2 separate regions of the Homo sapiens genome follow, and region 1 is linked to region 2. The links come from fine-mapping of genetic effects on gene expression. A gene starts in region 2. The other region holds a variant in brackets. All regions are shown on one strand. Distances are between the middles of the regions. Region 1 overlaps TSPAN7 (tetraspanin 7). Region 2 holds the start of TSPAN7 (tetraspanin 7).

What was found.
Region 1: its variant is fine-mapped to the expression of TSPAN7 in whole blood (TOPMed, PIP 0.97).

What each region holds. Positions count from the first base shown.
Region 1 is chrX:38,651,804-38,654,720 of GRCh38, forward strand. The region is part of intron 1 of TSPAN7 (tetraspanin 7); the gene reads left to right. Among named protein-coding and RNA genes, the nearest start is that of TSPAN7, 92 kb to the left of the region's middle. The variant G/A (reference allele first, on the strand shown) is at 1,390.
Region 2 is chrX:38,560,019-38,562,935 of GRCh38, forward strand. TSPAN7 (tetraspanin 7) reads left to right here and starts at 1,524. Exons shown (of 8, transcript NM_004615.4): 1 at 1,524-1,609. The coding sequence starts at 1,529. RefSeq lists an enhancer at 1,624-2,125.

The DNA.
Region 1 (2,917 bases), 92 kb after region 2:
TAGATACTTCCTCTTTTTAGTTCCAATATATGTCAGGTTTTTGACAGAATCCTTGTCTATATGTGAAAAGTATGAAGGTTGCAACTATAGTTTTTGTAAATTTATCTTTAACCAGCTTCACTGATTCTTAAAGTCATCCAGGATTTCTGACTCTAAGTGATGTAGAGTGTATTTGCTTATGGAAAATAGAAGAATTAAAATAATAAGGCAAATACTCCTTCCAGTGCCATATCCTCTTTTAAAGAACACAGCTCATTTTCATTGCAGCCCCATTACACTGAACAGGCTTTTCTCTTGCTCTTAATGTGTCAAAATTGTATGACCTATCGCTTCCTTTGAAGATCAAAGGAAATGAAACTCCAGATCTGGGAAAATGGTTTCCCCAATTCCTGTGCTGTTAATGCTCCTATTCATCCATGTATGAAAATCCAGGGAGATAATTGGCTAGCAAAGGCTAGCCAATTAGCTAGCACAAGTCTTCTGGGACAATAGTCAGAATGAGAACAGGTTTTGAGAAACAGTGTAACTTAGGCCTTCCTGCTGGGTTCCCAGTCATAGGACTTCTGTCCCATGGTTGCATCCAGAGTCTCTATGGGGCTGCCCAGAAAGCTGTTTACCTTCTGTTGTAACACCTCCCAAGGCAACCCACTCCATTTTGGGCAGTGCCTATTATTAGAAAGTTCTTCCTTGTAATGAGCCAAAAATCTGTTTCCCTATAACTTTCCCTAATACTGGCTTAAATATAGATTTTTGAGGACTGGCCTAGAAACAAGCCACCAGGTATAACATGGTTTCTCAAAGAAAATACATTTTGAGTTTCAAACAAGTAATGTATAAATAATCCAGAACACAGCCCAGTTCATAAAATGGAGTATGCCCAATAAGGGGCACGGGAGGCCCGTCCCAGGAAAGGAGAAGGGAAAAGGCCAGTGCCCCCAGGGTCAGTCTGTAGAGTCCGTTTCTTCCCACTCTGCGTTTACCCATGTTTCCTGGCTATTGACAATTAGAAACTGCCCAAGAAACCTCGCTGTGGAAATTGGTTCAGGGTACTGGTTTCCTCACAGCTCACTCGTAGGAAGCCCTTAGGCAGTATAAAGAAAACCAGGCTTCTCTTTAGCGTTCACCTACCTAGACGAGAGGGTCAGTGACTGGGTAATATTGGACAGAGGAACTCAGCCCTTGGCCTTGACTGCTGTTACTTACACTGCCGCAAGAGGCAGAATATAATAATGGCCAAGAAAACTGCCTTCGAGTTGGACAGAAATTGATTGGACTCCGGGCTATACCACTTATTTGCTTTGTGACTTTGAGCACGTTGCTGAAAGTCAACAACCGAAAGCCTCAGGTTTTCATCTGCAAAACAGAGATTAAGAATAAATGTGATGAAGC[G/A]TATAAGGAGCACGGTACTGCTCAATAAATGTCGTTTATCACACACATACATGGTTAACTCTGTTTCCAGACTGTGCCCTTCGTTCATGAACAGCCAATCAAATCCCCCTCCCAGGCTGTGGGGTGAGCAGATACGATGCGGTTGCCTTATCTCGTGACTCAGCCCATCACTTTTGGTTAGAGCTACTTTGAAAGGCAATTCCACAGTTTCAGAGTGGGTTCTTCTCATATATGTTGCACCTGTGGCCTCTTGTTTCTCTTCTCAGGGCCAAAACCAGAGTACTTAAGTTTCTTAAGCTTTCGTTCTAGAATGTGCTTGGTGGAAAACCAATACTCAAGACACTACAGTTTTCCATGTGTTTGTCAAGCTTTATTGATTCTTCAGATCAGTCCTCCCATAGGTTTGTTCCTGGTGCTAATGATATTGAACATTTCTGGTTCACGTCGACATACACATGAAGATATTTATTTCCCATACTGGCTTTTAAAGTATCAAACTATAGCTTGGAGTGGAACATGCTTTCATTTCTATAGATTTACCTGCTTGAAGGAGGGGAATAATGCATAGCCTTTTATTATTTTTTTTATTATACTTTAAGTTCTAGGGTACATGTGCACAACGTGCAGGTTTGTTACATATGTATACATGTGCCATGTTGGTGTGCTGCACCCATTAACTCGTCATTTACATTAGGTATATCTCCTAATGCTAATGGATAGCCTTTTAAAATAAATGAATTATTGGCCATGCCTATAGATCTTATTTATTTTTAATTATGGCAGCCAAATTCTCAGGGTTGATTCAAGGAAAAATCAGTGCCAGGATGGACGATGCTGGCTTATGAACTCCTCTTATGGAAGAGTTAGGAGTAAAGGGTTGAGGAGAAAGAACCTTCTACAGACAGGCTAAAGAGGACATTAAAGGAAAGCAGTAGTGGAGGGTCAGGGCTTTGAGTAACTGTTCTGCCATTTAGTGGCGATGACCTTGGGCACGTTTCATAGGGTTATTAAGAAGATTGAGCCAGATAAAGCATTAAAGCACTTAGCATAGTACAGGGCACACAGATAGTAAGCACCTCAGTTGTACATTTTTTAAGAGACAGGGAAATCTTACTTAAATGCTGTTCATTATCTTGGCTCCTAACCATCAGCTACAGACCTCATAGAGTTATAGGATATTAGAGCTTCAAATTACTTTTCTATTAGTGGTGATGGATTAGAAGGAACTATTCCCATGCTTTCTCATTTAGTCCCCCTTGTGGCCAAAAGCAGACATTTATGAAGCAATGTGCTGGATTAGAAGCAATTGGCTAAAGCACAGGTTTTTATCTGAGTGCAACTGCCAGGGCCTTACAGTAGTCAGGCCCACCATTTAGCCTCCTTGATGCAGTGCTAGTGAGAATAGACTTTATGCCTCCAAAGCTCATACTTACTTACCTGCCTGCTGTCTTGTATTTGGTCAGTTAGCAAATATTTAACTAAGCCCCTCCTGTGAGCCGGCATTTGTATTGGCCCTGGGGATACACCC
Region 2 (2,917 bases):
CACTGAATCTGTGTGTTCCTCTACAAACCATATCTGGGTGGAATGTACGTTTTTATTGTGATATAATTAATATATCATAAAAGTCATCCTCTTAAAGTATACAACTCAGTGGTTTTTAGTAATTCACAGTATTGTGCAACCATCATCACTATGTAATTCTAGAACATTCTCATTACTCTAAAAAGAAGCCGCTTACCCATTAAAAGTCACCTCATTCCTGCCTCCCACTCGCTGCAACCACTAATCTCTTTTGTCTCTATGGATTTGTCTATTTTGGATATTTCCTATACATGAATCATTCAATATGTGGTCTTTTGTGTCTGGCGTCTTTCGCTTAGCATATTTTCAAGGTTCATCCACGTTGCAGCATTTACCAGTAGTACTTCATTCTTTTTTGTGGCCGAATAATTTTCCGTTGTATGGAGGCACCGAATTTTGGTCATCCACTCATCAGCTGACGGATATTTGAGTTGTTTCCAATTTTTGGCTATTGTGAATAATGCCGCTATAAACATTCATGTATATGGTTTTGTGTGGGCATATATTTTCATTTCTCTTGGGTAAATACCCAGGAATGGAGTTGCTAGATCATATGCAAACTCTGTTCAACTTTTTGAGGAACTCCAAATTGGTTGTGAACATTATTTTTTGACCTCAATGCAGCTTTCCTTTACAGGAGGGAGGTGGACTGTACTTGTTAGCGCGCTGCAAATGATTCTCAGGCATATTAAACATTTTTCTGTATTCTGTTAAACATTGTATGCGCAGCAAGAATGACGCCTCATACAGACCTTTCTTGTCATTTCGTTTTATTATTTCAAAATGTAAGACAAATCTGAAAAATGGAGGAGCCTGCAGATACCTGTGGTGGCGAGGATTTGGGGTCTGTCTGAGCTCCGGCGTTCCTGCCCATCCCTCCAGCTGTATCTCTGGCCACCTGTCTGTTCCTGGCACAAACAAGGCCTGCTGGTTGCCAAGGACATGACTACGGGGCCATTTCCATGTGAGAAGGCCCTGGGGGGTGTCAAAATGCAGAAACGTGACTGATGGGCAGCGGGGCACCCATAAACTTCCCATAGCCAGGTGCAGGCATACCTGCAAATGTAACGCCCAACTGTGTACAAAGCAGAAATCTAAATGCCAGGGCGGACTGGGAGAGGTTCCCGTGACCTCTGACCCGGCCTCTAAATTCTCCCATTCCCTCCCCACTGTCCTGCCGCGCCCCGTGTCGCCTCGCCTGGCCTCGCCTGGCCTCGCCTCCCTCCTCCGCTGGGGGTCTAAGCCTGCGCAGTATTGCGAACGCGGGCGGCGTTTCCCGCATGCGCAGTCACTGCCCGGCCCGGCTTTTTCAGTAGGAGCCCCGCGCGGTGCGCGCTCACGCACGCGCACGGCCTCGCCTGCGCGCTCACGAGGCCTCTCGCGGCACGCGCCCCCGCCCCGCGCCGCCCCGCCCCGCCCCGCCTCTTCCCCCTCCCGCGCGCCCGCCCGCCGCCTGCCGCCGCCGCCGCCGCCGCCGGAGCTCTGTAGTATGGCATCGAGGAGAATGGAGACCAAACCTGTGATAACCTGTCTCAAAACCCTCCTCATCATCTACTCCTTCGTCTTCTGGGTAAGTGCCCACGCCGGGCCGGTGGCCGAGTCGCTGTCCATCGGTCCGTATGATGATGCTCTGAGAAAAGAAGTGGGGAGGAAAACCCAAACCAAAAATCAAATCTGGGACCCCTCTTTAAGGAGACAGGCGCGGGGTGCTGGGTCGGGGCTGCAGGATGGCAGGGTGCGGGTCGGGGCTGCTGGAACCCTAGACCTCGCTCCGCGCAGGCTGCAAGGGGCTGCGGAGTGTCGGTGACTGCAGGTTGTCGACCTTCCAAAAAAAAAATGTTAATGCATTAGTTTCTTTTATAATCTCCCGGGATAGGGTCAGCTCCTGGGGAAAGTTGCGGGTTTATTCGTCTGTTTTCCTCGCTGTACACCTTTCTCTCCCTTCCCCTACCAGCCGGTTCGCGGCGCCTCTTGGAGCTAACCTGTGGCGGGCTAGGAGAGGACACGGGAGCGTGGGGTTTAATCTCAGATTCCCAGTTATTCCTGACCCCACGGGGCTGCGGGAGGGAGGCACCAGAAGCACCGTGCCTGCCTGGCTGGGCAAGGGCGACCGAAGTCTCCCAAGCGCACGATGGGGAGCAGGCGTTGTCACCGCGTGGAGGCGCACGAAAGGGAGAGGGTCTTACATAAGCCGGGGGCATCTTTGAGGTTTCTTGGTGACCCAAGAGATGAGTCTTTGGATTCCTTTCCCACCTCCCTGCATCCTTACACTCCCTATCTGGTGGTTCTGTCACTGCATGAGCACAATCCGCAGCGCCCTGGCAGAGGGTCCCCTCCACTTGGTGATAGAGATAGCGCCCCAACTCTACTCCCCATCTATCCAGTGCTGCCGCCGGTCCTTGAAGCTCAATGCAGAAGGGTGACGTCACCCCTCAGCCAGGGCCGCGGGGGGCTGCGTGGTGCACCTCGCGGAGGGATGCGCCTTTCTGCGCGGGGGAGGGGGGAGGAGGAGGAGGGGGAGGAGGAGGAGGAGGAGGGGGCTCCAGGCTTGTGCCTTACCTCATCCTGTTTGGCAAATCATGGAATCAGTGCAGGGCTGACACTGCAGTGATTCACTGAGAGAGGTGCGTGGTACTTAAAGACCATTCCCTGTTATTTCTCTTTTCATGTCGGTGACCCCGTCTTCCCTAGTTCCTTACGCCCATAATCAAGCTACAGCTACCCCGCAGGGGAATGAATATCGACCCTCTTCCCCCCTTGTCCCCCAAATCTGGGTCATTTTAGCTTCTACGGCAGTCATTTTGAAATCTGAGGCTCTGTAGGAAAAGCCAGTTCAACCTTTGCTTGTTTTCTTCTTGCACCCCTCACCCCCGCCCCT